2 separate regions of the Homo sapiens genome follow, and region 2 is linked to region 1. Evidence: fine-mapped expression QTL. Tissue or cell type: blood mononuclear cells. Region 1 holds a variant in brackets; the other region holds the start of a gene. All regions are shown on one strand. Distances are between the middles of the regions.

Region 1 (8,000 bases):
TGTTTACTTGGGTTCGATTTCTATGGGCCTGGGACCTTCTACTGGATTGTTAACCCTGCATTTTGTTAGGTTGGAGCTGGAAGCTGAAAAGGGGCTCTAAGAGCTGACCCTAGCCCCTGAGGGATTCAGAACGCAGGGAGGTCATCCCACCTTGGTAATGACATGCGGAGAGGGAGTCAGGACTCCTGGGTCCCAGCCCCCGCTCCACCTTCAAATCGGGGTCCTCTCCGTAGAAACCAGCAGATGCCCCCAGCTGTGTGGGGGAAGGGCGGGCTCCACTCTGCTGGTTGTTCCCGAATGTGCACTTTGGGCTCAGAACTTTGTTCAGTTCTGAGAATGGACAGTAAACCACATGCTCATGGCCTGGAGTTTGAACTGTGCCGCTGCTTTGCTGCTGTCACCCTGGCAGGCTGCCTCAGAGCCTCTGCAGACTCCTACTCCTATCCATCATCACCCTCAGAGTCTTCTGTGGCTCGTGGCCCTTTCTCTTCAGTGATGCCCAGGGCCTGAGTGGCAGGCAGCAGGTTGTGGGGAGGTGTTTCTTGTCATTAACCGTGAGCTCCCGGAGGGCTTGGACCACACCTGGCAGCCTGCTGGGCCCACACCGAGTGACCAACGCGAAGTCTTTCTATATAGAGGGGCCTTGAGTTTGCACGTAACTCTGGGTGGGGGGGTCAGGCCCACTGGTGTGGATGGCACAGAGGGCAGAGTGCTTCGGGCTGGGCTCAACCTGCCTACTCACCCTAGCTCCGCCACTACCTCCCTGACCTTAGGCAAGTCACTTTGCCTCTTTGGGCCTCCCTTCTCCATCCTTAGATGATCTGATAATTTCTAAAATCTCTTGTGGCAGTACAGGGCTCTGATGATTTGGGAACAGGGATGGAGCTGGTAAATTTACACTGCAGTTCACTTTCCCCCGCCCCCCCTTTTGCAGCCTAGGGCTTAGCTGCCTTTTATTACATTCATATTTATGTTTCACCCGGGGAACTTTTTTTTTTTTATTAAAACCATCTCATTAGCTAAACAACTATGCCGCTGCTTTCGCGGCAGCGGCTCCAGAGTGGCCTGGTCTCTCCTGCAGCTGTCCCCCGTCTATGCCGGGAAGACCTGCGGCCTGTGTGGGAATTACAATGGCAACCAGGGCGACGACTTCCTTACCCCCTCTGGGCTGGCGGAGCCCCGGGTGGAGGACTTCGGGAACGCCTGGAAGCTGCACGGGGACTGCCAGGACCTGCAGAAGCAGCACAGCGATCCCTGCGCCCTCAACCCGCGCATGAGTATGTGAACCCGGGGGCAAGGCAGGGACCTCGCAGAATCTCGAGGTCTCCACATTAGTGCAGTGCGTTCCGGAGGCAGTGCTCCCACCGCGGAGGGCGGGGGCGGGGAGCGAGGAAAGGGGTCGGGCTTTGTTTTTACCGTCAGCACTTGATCATCTGAACTGGGCCATTTGCTCTTCAAAGTCCCTTTATTGGGCGCCCGCCACAGGCCAACCCCCGGGAAAGAAAAAAAAAAAAAAAGTCTACCGAGGCGGGAGGATCGCTTGAGGGCAGGAGTTCGAGACCAGTCTGGGCAACGTAGGGAGCCCCCATTTCTATTAAAATAATAATAATAATAATAATAATAATAATAATAATAATAATAATAAATTTGCCGGGCGTGGTGGGGCGCGCCTGTAATCCCAACTACTTGGGAGCTACGTGGGACGGTTGCATGAACCCAGGAAGGCAAGGCCGCAGTGAGCCAAGATCGCATTTCTGCACTCCAGCCCGGGCGACAGAGCAAGACCGTGTCTCTCCAAAAAAAAAAAAAAAAAATTCCATAGTCCCCGTCCTTCGACCTTCCCAGTCTACTGCAGCAGCAGCTTACAAACTCAGCGTTAGATGATTGTAAGATAAATGGACTTGGGGGTGGGGGTGGCATTTGCAGATTTCTCTGCGTGACCTTGCAGCCCTCTATTAGCAGCACTGGGCTATTTCCAGGGGAGTGTTGACCGGGAGGGCGTGGCCCCCACTCCTCCCCACCACATCCCAGGCTCGCTCCTCTCGCCCCACAGCCAGGTTCTCCGAGGAGGCGTGCGCGGTCCTGACGTCCCCCACATTCGAGGCCTGCCATCGTGCCGTCAGCCCGCTGCCCTACCTGCGGAACTGCCGCTACGACGTGTGCTCCTGCTCGGACGGCCGCGAGTGCCTGTGCGGCGCCCTGGCCAGCTATGCCGCGGCCTGCGCGGGGAGAGGCGTGCGCGTCGCGTGGCGCGAGCCAGGCCGCTGTGGTGCGTGCCCTCCCTGCCCGCAGCCCTCCGGGCCGCCCCCCAAATCCGTCCACGTGTGCTTTTCGAAGCCCTTTCTCTGCGTTGTTTCCTGTGGAAAGAGGGCGTAGGGCATTGTGACAAACACGGGTGGGGAGGACGGTTCATTTGCACCCACTTTTCCCTTCCACCTCCCAGCAGGACAGGCGGTGGGGACCGGCTGATGATTCGGGCCTGTTCCAGGAAGACAGGTTGGCTCCTCCTACCTGGAGGCCTAGAACGTGGGGGTCCCTGCAAAGCTTGGGTTTCCCGTGGCCGCTGCCACCTAGTGTTCGTTCAGCACAGAAGGTCAGGCTGTGGAGCGAATGGGTCCCAGATCCCACTGGGTCTCCGCCTCCCTTAAGAGTCCGATGAAGGCAAGGGAAATTCACATACAAACCCTTTGCTTGTAACTCCAGGCAAACCACCGATGGACAAAACCTCTGGCGTTGTATAAAGTTACCTAAAGGTGAATTACATCACTGTCCCCAGTTGGCTTTAGATTCTCACTCTGCACTGTTGGATTCCTGGCACCAGAGGTGGTATCTATTGTGCTCACTTTTTTGTTTTTGTTATTGCTCTGGGGACATTTGCTGCATGCCCAGTGTGGTCGGGCAACAGTGATGATGTGGAACTCCAAACTTACTGTTAGAGTCACAGATGGAAATGGCCGCCCTACTAGATACCTATCCTACTAAGTGAAAGGATGAGTAGATTCAGGGCAGGGAAAACCAAGGAAGGCTTTCTGGAGGACGTGTACTTGGCTAGGGTTTTAAAAAGCTGCTTTCTTGGCAGAGAAGACTTGTTTCCAATGGTAGAATCATAGTAGGCATAGAAGTGACGAGTATATTCTGTTAAGAATAAGGCATAGTGGATATTCTGTTTTTTAGGGTAAAGTAGATGTGTTTAGAAATTAAAATGTAGGTGTAGTCCCAGCTACTTGGGAGGTTGAGGCAAGAGGATTGCTTGAGTCTAGGAATTTAAGGCTGCAGTGAGTTATGATCGCACCACTGCACTCTGACCTGGCCAACAGAGAAAGACCCTGTGTGTGTGTGTGTGTGTGTGTGTGTGTGTGTGTGTATACATATATATATATATAAAGTAGATGGTCCTGTTGGAAGAGGAGTTATGAGAAACAGTGAAAGGAATTAGCATCTATATTTCAGGAGCAGTGTAGGCATGGGGACCCTAGAAGTGCTACTATTTTGGGTCCAATGAGCCAACTCATGTTTTGAGTTGTAGAAATGTCATATGAAAGAGGAGCAGAGACAACAGTAAGGACGAAAGGGACGAGCACATAATGCAGCCGTTGTGCCCTCCCCATTCCTCCAGCTCTGGGATGTCTTGGGGAGCCACAGGCTAGGGGCTGGGACAACTGGGTCTGGGTCCTTACTGGCAACTTTCCCGTGAGGTACCAGTTATGGGACCTTGAACCCTTCACGTAACCCCTTTGCACTTCAGTTTCTTCCTTAGCATTTGCTATTTAGAAATTGGGGAAAGTAATGAGGAGTGAATGAGATGCTGCTTGTGAATATTCTTTGCTTGTCCACCAGTGTTAGAAATGATGCATTATCAGTATGTGGCAGCATCCGCAGGATTTCTTAATTTAGGACATTCTCCTGGAATGCTAAGGGCCCACTGAAATATTCTTTAATCTGTCATGAACAGCCATTCTTAACCTCCACTGAACAGAACAGGGGAAATGGGCTGATGCTTCAGTAGTGGGGATAAGATTCAGTTAAAGAATGTCTTGACTCCTGAGGCATTACGATAGGGTAGAAAGGGTGGTAGGAAGGAGCTTTCCCTGGAGACTGTTAAGGACAAGAGGGGTCTGTCTCTGTGGGTTTATGTGACAAGAGACTGGGCTGACCAGATGGCCTTGGGCTGTCCCTTTGTACCCAAGGCAGTTGGGTAAGTCTCCTGGGTTCTTGCCCCAATCTTTTCTTGACTTGGAGAAGAGCTCAGGCTCAGCTGTCCCCTCTACCCACTTCCACTTTCTCTTCCAGAGAAATGAACAGAGCTCCCTAAACCAGTGAATCTATTCGTAAGAAGAG[G/TG]TCACATCAATTGGAGACACTCAGGGAGCACAGACTTACCATGTAGCTACTTTGTGGGATGGTGTGAGGAGATTGATGAGAAGCACACACATTTTTTTTCCTCTTGCAAATTGGTTGTGCTCCCTTTGGGAAGACAGGACCACAGGCTTTCTGAAGGCAAGGACCAGGGCTGGCCATCTCTGCCTCCCTGGGCCTAGCATAGCCCCTGGCATGCAGTGGATACACAAGAAGTGTCTGCTAAACTGAGATGTGCATTGTTTCTTTGGGGAAGAAGGCTAAAGGAGAAATTTAATAAGGCTCCAAGCCAGCCCTAGAGATAGCCTATCAGAACAAAGAAAGTTCTCAAGTCTAGCTGCTTTTTAATGGGTAAAATGTGCCCTTGTCATTGTAGGCTCAGGTGGTTGAAAGACATCTCCATCTTTATTGTCTAACACATCCTGTCTTAACCTACACTCCCTCAGTATTCATCCAATAATCCAACCTTTCCATTCTTGCAGAGAAAAATCAATGTCTAATAGGATTAAAGAGGCCCTCCCTTCCCAGCTACCTTCAAACACCAAGTTCAGGGTGGTTGTAGGAGCGGGAGGCTGCAGGGTCTCTCCAGAGGCTCCCCACTCCATTGTTCAGGCTCACGGCCAAGGCTTACTTTTATAACATCTGTGAAATGCCCTGCCAGTAGGTTTCTGCTGGAGCAATGGATTTGAACAGAGAGGGGAAGGATTGTGATGGTCTCAGAAGAAGCATGCCCAGGGTGAGGTTCTCATTTCTTGGGCAGCAGCTGGTCTGCACAGGGAAGGCATTTTGAAAGGGCAGAATGCTCCCCACACCTTCCCTGTCCTCTACCCTGCCCATAAGGAATTTTGTCACCAGAATGCCAGAGCTTCTGAGGCCTAGGCCTTTCTCTGGAACACTCCTTCCTTCTTGGGACCGCTGAGCTGGGGCTGTTTCCTTAGCAATAAGAATAATAATTATTATCAGTGAACATTATTAGCAGTGAACATTCTCCACATGCCAGACATTCTTCTAAATGTGTTAGCTCATTCAACCTTCACAAAGACTGGGTGGATACTGTTATTCCATCCAGTGAGGATACTGCCCAAGATCACACAGCCAGCTAGTGGTGGACCTGGGCGTGAACCCAGGTATTTGGGATACAGAGCCCGTTCCCTTAGCTGCGTTGCCACTTTGCTACACTTCCTTCTGGCTTGTGTCTCTTGCAGTATTTTTCTGTGGGAGGCTAGGGAGGGTGAGGGCTGTGGGCAGATGGGTGCAGCCCATTTCGCTGTGGTAGGCATGAGTGTCCCTCCTCTTTGGGACCAGCATGTCCTCAAAGGGACTGTTTTCTTTCTAGAGAGTAAGGGTTATGAGCATGAGCTTTAGGGCTGCAGAGAGCTGAGTTCAAATCCTTCCTCTGCTTCTTCCTGTGAGGTATACCCCTAACAAGTCACTCAGCCTAAGTTTCTTGAAAGGGGGTGATGAGAGCTAACTCGGCATGAGGCATAGAGCCCACGTAAGAGCAAGGCATTCAGTAGGTGCTCCATAAATGGTACTCATTGTTGTCACGGGGTATGCCCTTGCCCGTCATTCCCAGTACTTTTTAATATTCACAGCTTCAAAACCTGCCAGGATTTCTACTACATCCTAGGCTTTGAGAATTCAGAGATGACTAATGCACATTCCCTGTGGTTGAGGAAAGGAGAAAATGTGTGCCCCCATAATTATAATACATATCTGCATGCTGAAAAATACACATTTGCTCATAGTGGGAAAGGAAGTTGATGACCATACAGATATAATTGGGGGTCACTTGGGGAAAACTGGGTAAAGGGTACATGGGATCTTTCTGCATTACTTCTTGTAATTGCAAGCAAGTCTACAATTATCTCAATAAAAATTTTAATTAAATAATTGGGGGTCACAGCTACAAGGGGTGGCAAGTCCTAGAACCACAGTCCTTGCTGTCCAACATTCCCGCTGAGGCCTTACTTCTCCTCTCTCTTCTAGAGCTGAACTGCCCGAAAGGCCAGGTGTACCTGCAGTGCGGGACCCCCTGCAACCTGACCTGCCGCTCTCTCTCTTACCCGGATGAGGAATGCAATGAGGCCTGCCTGGAGGGCTGCTTCTGCCCCCCAGGGCTCTACATGGATGAGAGGGGGGACTGCGTGCCCAAGGCCCAGTGCCCCTGTTACTATGACGGTGAGATCTTCCAGCCAGAAGACATCTTCTCAGACCATCACACCATGTGGTAAGTGCAGGCAGCAGTGTCAGGGACCTCTAAAACAGCAGAGCTGGGGAGGAAAACGGGACCCCCAAGTCCTTTACTTCATGGATGGGTAAACTGGGGCCCAAGGAAGGAAGTGACTTGTCCAGAACTGTACAGCAAGTCAGAAGCGGAGCTGGGATTTGGTCCAGGTCTTCTGACTTCCTTACTACACAGGGAACTGGGATTCCTGGCTGGCAGTAGGAGTTCTTGAGTTTTATTGCCAACTGTTATGTGTTGGCCCCCATTTCTGGGCTTTAGGTCTCAGTTTTCCTTTTCTGGAACAGGAAAAGGGAGATCTGCCTGTCACCCTCCTTTCCAGCCTGCTTTCAGTATTCTCAAGCTGAAGCATTTGAGCAGGAAGAACATGGACCACTGCAGCGCTGCCTCCATGGGGCATTGCTACCCTGACCTGCTTCATGCACTTCCCCAAAATAGCTCCAAATCATGCTTGCTTCCTGCAGCTCTTTGCCTAGGCCTTCTGTGACAGTCGGTTTCAACAGGGTTGCCATGAGCGTGGAAGAAATTTACAACAGGACATTTGTTGAGCAAACACTTACCTGTCACCTGTTCTGTCTTAGTTCTGGCTAAGAATTGGTGGTCTAAAGATGAGCCAGGCTGGGGCAGTGGCTCACATCTGTAATCCCCAGCACTTTGGGAGGTGGAAGTGGGAGGAATGCTTGAGCCTGGGAGTTTGAGAGCAGCCTGGGCAACATAGTGAGGCCCTGTCCCTAAATACAAAGAAAAAAAAATAGTTGGCCATGGTGGTGCATACCTGTAGACCCAGCCACTTGAAATACTGAGGTGGGAAGATTGCTTGAGCCCAGGAAGCCAAGGCTGCAGTGAACTGTGATCGCGCCACTGCATTCTAGCCCGGGCGACAGAGGGAAATCCAGTCACCAGACACAGTACCTGATAGTCTACTAGGGAAGACCAGTTAGAAACATCCTGATTGGCCAGGCACAGTGGCTCACGCCTGTAATCCCAACACTTAGGGAGGCCGAGGTGGGCGGATCACGAGGTCAGTAGATCGAGACCATCCTGGCTAACACGGTGAAAATACAAAAAATTAGCTGGGTGTGGTAGCGGGTGCCTGTAGTCCCAGCTATTTGGGAGGCTGAGGCAGGAGAATTGCTTGAACCCAGGAGGCGGAGGTTGCAGTGAGCTGAGATCTTGCCACTGCACTCCAGCCTGGGTGACAGAGCGAGACTCTATCTCAAAAAAAAAAAAAAAAAAAAAAAGAAAAAAAGAAGTCCTGATTATGGAAAATTTCAGACAGACATTAAAGTAGAGAGAATAGTATAAGGAGCCCCAACGTATCCATTCCCAGCTTCAATGATTATCAGCACTTTACCATTCTTATTTTGTCTATTGACTCCTCTGCTGTGTGGCTGGAATAGTT
Region 2 (8,000 bases), 69 kb before region 1:
CTCGAACTCCTGACCACAAGTGATCTGCCTTACTTGGGCTCCCAAAGTGCTGGGATTACAGGCATAAGCCACTGTGCCTGGCTGCTCTTCCATTTTTTCATCTCTATATTTGAGTGATTTCTTTAGAACCATTTTTCAGCTTTTTTTTTCCCAAAAATATCTGGTGTTTTTGAATTTTTCAATTAATTTACTATATACATTTCTTAAAGTTCTTTTTTTTTTTTTTTGGGACAGTATCTCACTCTATTGGCTAGGCTGGAGTGCGCGATTATGGCTCACTGCAACCTCAACCTCCTGGGCTCAAGGGGTCCTCCCTCCTACCTCAGCCTCCTGAGTAGCTGTGACCACAGGCATGCACCGCCAGGCCCAGCTAATTTTTTATTTTTATTTTTTGTAGAGATGGGGTCTTGCTGTGTTGTGTAGGCTAGTCTCAAATTACTGAGCACAGACAATCCTCTTGCCTCTGCCTCCCAAAGTGTTAGGATTACAGGTGTGAGCCTCCACGTCTGGCCTTAAAGTTCTTTTTCAAGTTTTCCTCCTGTTCTTTCTTTTTTTTTTTTTTTTAACGGACTCTCACTCGGTCACCAGGCTGGAGTGCTGTGGCATGATCTTGGCTCACTGCAGCCTCCGCTTCCCGGGTTCAAGCGATTCTCCTGCCTCAGCCTCCAGAGTAGCTGGGACTACAGGTGCGTGCCACCATGCCCAGCTGATTTTTGTATTTTTAGTAGAGATGGGGTTTCACCATATTGGCCAGGATGGTCTTGATCTGTTGACCTTGTGATCCACCCACCGTGAGCCACCGTGCCCTGCCTTGAAAAAAGTTTATTCTTTGTAAAGACAGGGTCTTGCTGTGTTGCCCAGGCTGGTCTTGAACTCCTGGTCTCAAGCGATTATCCCATCTCAGCCTCCCAAAGTGCCAGGATTATAGACATGAACCACCGTGCCTAGCCTCTATTATAATTTTAAACACTCATTTTTTTCTTTTTATCTTTCTCTGATGATTTTATTATCTGAAATTCTTAGGGATTTAATTCTTGCTCATGGTAGATTGTTTTCTCAAGTGTTGAAAAATTTGTGATTTTGAATTCATCGTCAAGAGAGCTTTATTTGCATGAGTGCAAAGGATGAAAATTCTAGACTGGGCGTGGTGGCTCACGCCTGTAATCCCAGCACTTTGGGAGACCGAGGTGGGCAGATCACGAGGTCAGGAGTTTGAGACCAGCCTGGCTAACATAGTGGAACCCCATCTCTACTAAAAATACAAAAAATTAGCTGGGTGTAGTGGTGTGTGCATGTAATCCCAGCTACTTGGGAGGCTGAGGCAGGAGAATTGCTTGAAGCCGGGAGGCAGAGGTTGCAGTGAGCCATGATTGCATCACTGCACTCCAGCCCAGCGGACAGTGCGAGACTCCATCTCAAAAAAAAAAAAAGAAAGAAAAGAATATTCTAAAAAAAGACTTAATTCCCCCCGCCACCCCACCCCAAAACAAGTGGAGACAGGCAAACTTCCTTATCTTCTAGGTTGGGGGATGGATTTTTTTCCTGGTCCACTGTTTGGAAGATGTTTCCCTTCAAACTTTCAGCTTTTGCAGGGATCTCCGTTCTAGTTCTCCCTCTGGGTCAGGCCCGTAGCTGCACTGCCCATTCTTGTAATGTGCGGCCTCCAGTCTGGAGGGTTCCCAGACTGGCCTACGCTAGGCCACCCATGGGCCTACCCTGCCTCATGCTCATTTAGGCTCCTCTTCCTCATTGACCCTTTAAGATATTCCTTACTTTCCTCCCAGATCAACTGTGGATTTAAAGAACATTTGTTGTATTTAGCACAGCATTTAAAGATATTTTGTAATGAAAGGGTTTTCAGATTAGTTATTTAGTTTTTTTAAATAAGAGCTGGAAGTGGAAATCCCGATGGCCTTTTCTTTTCTTTTCTTTTTTTTCTTGAGACGGAGTCTTGCTCTGTCACCCAGGCTGGAGTGCAGTGGCTCGATCTCAGCTCACTGCAAGCTCCGCCTCCCGGGTTCACGCCATTCTCCTGCCTCAGCCTCCCGAGTAGCTGGGACTACAGGCGCCCGCCACCACGCCTGGCTAATTTTTTGTGTTTTTAGTAGAGACGGGGTTTCACTATGTTAGCCAGGATGGTCTTGATCCCTTGACCTCGTGATCCGCCCACCTCGGCCTCCCAAAGTGCTGGGATTACAGGCGTGAACCACCGTGCCCGGCCCCCCAATGGCCTTTTCTACTGTCTCATGCTGATTCTGCCTCTGGTGCCATTTTTCTTCCTTGGGAGTGTGCATCTTCCTCTCCTGGGGCGGTAAAGGGAGTAGCAGAGTGCGAGGTATGTGGGAAGGGAGGAGGTTGGAACCTAGTGGTTTCTCAAAGTCTTAGGGCAGGAGGTATCATGGAGAAGCAGTGAGGAGGTCTTCCATACCCAGACATGCCTCAGGGTGCTTGTCTCAGTGCCTGGAATCCCAGCACGAGAGTCATCTTCCCCCCACCGCTGCCCATTGCATCAGTTACTTATTTTAGTAGGAATTAGTTTAGCAGATGGTGTTGAGAATTAGGCTTTTGGGAATGGGAGGCTGGGAAGAAGAATTGTGTGTGTGTGTGTGTGTGTGTGTGTGTGTGTGTGTGTGTAAGATCAGGGTACCAGAAGTGGGTGGAAATGTCCTTGAGAATTAGAATTATTAGAATGTAGCAACAGTAGAAGTATTAGACTCAAACCATCACTCCCCACCTTCACCATTTTACAAAGGCTTAGGCTTGTGGCCAAGACCTTCATCTTTAGCCGATCCATTCAACCCTGGCCAGGATCCAAATGGACTGTTTTTGTCAGGGCCAGGACCGGATCCTTCATACCTGGGGTGCATAGGAAGTGTTAGTACTCCCCTTCCTCCAAACACAGCAGCAAAATTGGCTCAGGTTGAGGTGTTTTTCTCAACTTCCCTGGAGTCCAGCCCTGGAAGCTGGATCAGGAAGCTGTGTTGTTCTACTGTGATTCCCCCTGGCCTGTATCAGCTTGCCCTGAAACAACCAGCATTCCTGGTTATCCCACACAGGTGGGGCACTCTAGGAAGACCAGGGATCAAGTGTGGGGGTGTAGGGATAGGGGGTGTTTGGGGAGGGCAAGGCAGTTAATTAAGGCAGCTGCCAGGAGGTCTCCCTCCAAACTCTACAAAGCTTTATCAGCTTGGAGGTACTTCTAATACCATTTCCTTTCATTGTTTCCTTTTGGTAATTAAAAGGAGGCCAATCCCCTGTTGTGGCAGCTCACAGCTATTGTGGTGGGAAAGGGAGGGTGGTTGGTGGATGTCACAGCTTGGGCTTTATCTCCCCCAGCAGTGGGGACTCCACAGCCCCTGGGCTACATAACAGCAAGACAGTCCGGAGCTGTAGCAGACCTGATTGAGCCTTTGCAGCAGCTGAGAGCATGGCCTAGGGTGGGCGGCACCATTGTCCAGCAGCTGAGTTTCCCAGGGACCTTGGAGATAGCCGCAGCCCTCATTTGCAGGGGAAGGTATGGCCTTTGGAAGGAGAGCTGGCTCAGTTGTGGGAGGAAGATGCAGGACTGACTGATCCCTGCTCCTGGGGAGCTGGAGTTCTCTGTCGCTGGACTAGAAGGGCTTTGTTTGGAGGGGCAATTCAATTCAGCCAGGGATGATCCTAATACTCCCTCCTCCACTTGCCTCTGAGGGTCCTGGGGCTGCTTTTCTTCATGCAGTGGGTTTTACTGTTTGATAGTACTTCACTCAAATGAGTTGGAATGAAGTTTGCCCTCACCTCTGAGAACCTGGGAGCAGCTGAATGTACCTGCGTGTTAGGACTGGGAGGGGACACCTGCTTGGAGACCGAGACCTGGCAGTATCTGACATCTCAGTGTTCCTTCCACAGATGTATCACAGATTGGCTTGATTTCACCTTTGGCTGGATGGGACCTTAGGTAGGAAGGGAGTCACCCCCAGTGAATCTCAGGCAGCAGATTCTGCACTTCATTTAACAACTTTTCCCGAGGAGAGGGGCTACAGCAGGGGCTCTAAGTGACTTGGGGTACGCTCTGCCAGCCAGGATGAATTGTCCCTCTCTTGGGGGTCACACAGTGGGGAAGTCTGCCTGCATCCAGGGCCGCTGGACTCCTGTCCATTTTTTCAGATGAACTCAGCAAACATTTGCTGGGCATCTCCTGGGTGCTAAGCATCTTGCCAGGTGCTGGGGTTGGAGGCAAGGGAGACAGCCTTTGCTCTTGTGAAGGCACTTGTGGTACAGAGTCAGGGGCCAACAAGCAAACCGTCAAGTTGGTGGTTCCTGAGCATTCTCTATGTCTGGGCTGCTGTGGTGGGCACACAAGTGTAAGACGGTTCCTACTCGCCAGTTTGGATGCAGAGGCAGGAAGGAATGAGGTGTGTGTTAGCTCCCAGCTGCTTCAGGAGGCAGGGATGTGAGGCCCAGCGGGCCTGGAGGGAAGGCAGCGTTTTCCTCCTGTCTTGGGCCTGGGACTGCTGTCTGTGGAAAGGTGCCCACAGGTCCCAGCTCACAGCGATTGTTACCCTTGGGCCTGGCACTGGCCAGGGGTTTTTTCGGGGGCCAGAAGTCCATGTTCAAAGGGGAAAAGGGGGTCACGAGGATCAATCTTTTCTCCTGCTTTAAAGAAATGTTTTTGCTACTGCATGCCCTGATAGTCGCCACACCAGCAGCCGCCTACCTGGGCAGCAATGACCAGCTCACGTCTCTTGCTTCTTTGCAGATGATTCCTGCCAGATTTGCCGGGGTGCTGCTTGCTCTGGCCCTCATTTTGCCAGGTAGGTACAAAAGGGCCTCCATTTCTCATTCCTGCCCCAGGGCCATCTGGAGTGACACCTTTCCGGGAATCAGCAGGTGTGTCTGGAGCTCACCTGTGTGCCCAGCCCTAACTTAGGCTGTTGGTTGCCTCCTGTGAAGGTTCTGCGGAGTTCCCACCCTTGACTTGTATTCCAGAGACCAGGTGCCTGCAAATGCCATCTCCTGTTGGGGAATTAAGAAGCATAAAGGTGGCACAGAACTGTCCTATATTATGGGGGCACAGGATGAGGAGGAAGGAATCCAAGACTTGGATGGATTATTAGTTTTCGATAAGATTGTGGAGGTCACCTTGTTGAACCTCCCATGGTACAATGAAGAGACTGAGGGTCAGAGAGGAGAAATGACTGCTCCAAAGTCTCCTAGAGCCAAAATCAGAGGTCAGTCTTCCTGGGTTCCAGGCCAACACCCTTTCCACTGCACTGCATCATACTGCTGCCCTTCCCTTGCTAAGATTCTGGGTCTGCAAATGGCGGGAGGGGACTTTTGACCTTGGGCGCTTTCCACTTAGATCTCTCAGGTCAGCAGCATCCAGCTACTGCCCACAGGTGAGTCTGGGAAAAAAAATACACATTTGTCACACTCTCTGCATCTTCCTACTAGGTGGGTCTTTTGCCGGGGAACCCAGAACACTTAGAGATTTACTGCTGTATTTCCCCACCTGCCGACACACACACACCCATAGTCAGTGAAGGAGTTAGCCTGTGACGCCGGAGGAGTTCACACTTCAGAGAGTCTATGTGTCAGGCACACAGTCTGATCTGTTTAAAATTTAACATGCCCAAGACATGCTAGTAGATTTATGTACAAAGATGCTCACTGCAATCTATCTATAATATTAAAACATGGAAAAATGCTAGAAACCTAACAATAGAGGGCTATACTATAGACATTCAGATGCAAAATATAATGCAGCCACTAAAAACCGCATATTGGAAGTATATACACTAGCACGACAAATTGTTTACAATCTATTGAGAAATAAACAGAGGTTATAGGTAGTTTGCACAAGTTGGTCACCAATTTATAAAAAACCCACAGCTGTATATATGCTATACAACAAAATGGAAAGATGAACATTGAAATGTTAACTCTAATCATCGCTGAATGTTGGGTTACAGATGGTTTTAACTTCTTTGTCTTTTCTTTTCTTTTTCTTTTTCTTTTTTTTTTCGAGACAGAGTCTCACTCTGTCGCCCAGTCTAGAGTGCAGTGGTATGATGTTGGCTCCCTGCAACCTCTGCCTCCTGGGCTCAAGTGATTCTCCTGCCTCAGCCTCACCAGTAGCTGGGATTACAGGCGCCCACCACTACACCCGGCTAGTTTTTGTATTTTTAGTAGAGACAGGGTTTCGCCATGTTGGGCAGGCTGGTCTTGAATTCCTGACCTCAGGTGATCTGCCCACCTCGGCCTCCCAAAGTGCTGGGATTATAGGCGTGAGCCACTGTGCCCGGCCAGCTTCTTTGTTTTCTTCTGTATGCCCCAAATTTTTAATAATGGACATGATGACATTTTAAATCAGTAAGTAAATGTCATTGAAACTAATGGATTTCCTGAAAAACTGTTCCTTAGTTATTGCTGTGAGTCTGGGGTCATATCTGGGAGCTGAAAGCAACAGCTTTAGTCTCATTTAGGATGGAAAATACCTCCCCACAGCCCAGTTTCTATCAGAGGCAGTCTAATTTCTACGAGGCCAGAGAGGTTTGAGCTGATGGTCCCAGTTGTGCCCTGAGATCACCAGCCCAACCTGTGGCCTCTCCCTCCAGGGACCCTTTGTGCAGAAGGAACTCGCGGCAGGTCATCCACGGCCCGATGCAGCCTTTTCGGAAGTGACTTCGTCAACACCTTTGATGGGAGCATGTACAGCTTTGCGGGATACTGCAGTTACCTCCTGGCAGGGGGCTGCCAGAAACGCTCCTTCTCGATTATTGGTGAGTTCTGGGCACTGCAGGGAGGACTTCAGAGGGAGGGCTGGCTGAGCTTAGCCCTGGTGTGGGGGAGGATTCCTGCTCTCAGGACAGTGTCTGAGCGGAAAGGTCACTGCTGAGAACAAGGAGAGGAACAGCCTTTCTGTGACACGTAGCCCCTCTTGGCTTTCCCCGGGTCTCTCCCCACGGGAGCCGGGTGGGATGGATGAAGAGAGTCTTCATCTTTGGTAGTCCACTGTGTCCGTTGCTCTGGGGCCCGGCGATGCCCTGGGAACTCCACAGCATCAAGGCAAATGATGAACTAGAGAAGGTGCTTTGGAACGTGTAAAACTCCTTGCCAGAGAGAAGACTCGTTGTTGTTTTCTTGGTGGCCTGTGGATCAGAACATCAGCTTATGCTGAGGACTTCCTGTATTCCTGCAGAAGGGCTGGTACTGTCCCTGCCATGTCCCTGCATCCCCACAACAGCCCTGGGATGTAGCTGTAGTCATCCCAGTTTTACCAATGGAGAACCAAGGCTCATGAAGGTTGCATGATCCTTCCAAGGCCTGACAGACAATAAAAGGTGGAGCTGAGGCCGGGCACGGTGGCTCATGCCTGTAATCCCAGTACTTTGGGAGGCCAAGGTGGGTGGATCACCTGAGGTCAAGAGTTTGAGACCAGCCTGGCCAACATGGTGAAACCCCATCTCTACTAAAAATACAAAAATTAGCCGGGTGTGGTGGTGTGTGTCTATAATCCCAGCTACTTGGGAGGCTGAGGCAGGAGAATCGCTTGAACCTGGTTGCAATAAGCTGAGATACACTCCAGCCTGGGCAACAGAGCGAGACTCCATCTCAAAAAAAAAAACAACCCACAAAAAACAAAAAAACTGGACTAAGCAGGCCAAGGACAGAGCCCAAGGCCAAGGCTTAATCTAGAAGAGGGCTCAGAAGTGCCCCACTCAAGTTTGGTCAAGGAGGGAGTCTTTGGCAACACCTGGACACTTACCTGAGATCTGGGCTGTAGGGCTCCTGGGGTCATTGCTCCATCAGTCAGCGGGGACTGACACAGGGTCCTCCATGTGCCCAGCACTGGGCTAGGCTCTGTCTAGCACCTGGCTATAGCTATGAGCTCCCCGCATTCCTGCTTTCTCCCTGAGGCCATCTTTGCTACCTGCCCTGACTCTGCTGGGAAACTTATCACATATGACTTCTGGGCACTGCCATCCTTCCCACTCCTCCATGAGCTCCTCAGGGACAAG

The links. PIP is the estimated chance that this variant, and not a neighbour inherited with it, causes the effect.
Region 2: it holds the start of VWF, and the variant in region 1 is fine-mapped to the expression of VWF in blood mononuclear cells (TOPMed, PIP above 0.99). The same link has a PIP of 0.9 or more in whole blood.

The regions. Positions count from the first base shown.
Region 1 is chr12:6,051,126-6,059,125 of GRCh38, reverse strand. It overlaps VWF (von Willebrand factor), which reads left to right. Exons shown (of 52, transcript NM_000552.5): 14 at 1,082-1,277; 15 at 2,054-2,269; 16 at 6,343-6,583. Among named protein-coding and RNA genes, the nearest start is that of SNORA120, 15 kb to the right of the region's middle. RefSeq lists enhancers at 10-517, 518-1,025. The variant G/TG (reference allele first, on the strand shown) is at 4,339.
Region 2 is chr12:6,119,935-6,127,934 of GRCh38, reverse strand. VWF (von Willebrand factor) reads left to right here and starts at 3,265. Exons shown (of 52, transcript NM_000552.5): 1 at 3,265-3,514; 2 at 4,739-4,793; 3 at 6,597-6,761. The coding sequence starts at 4,739.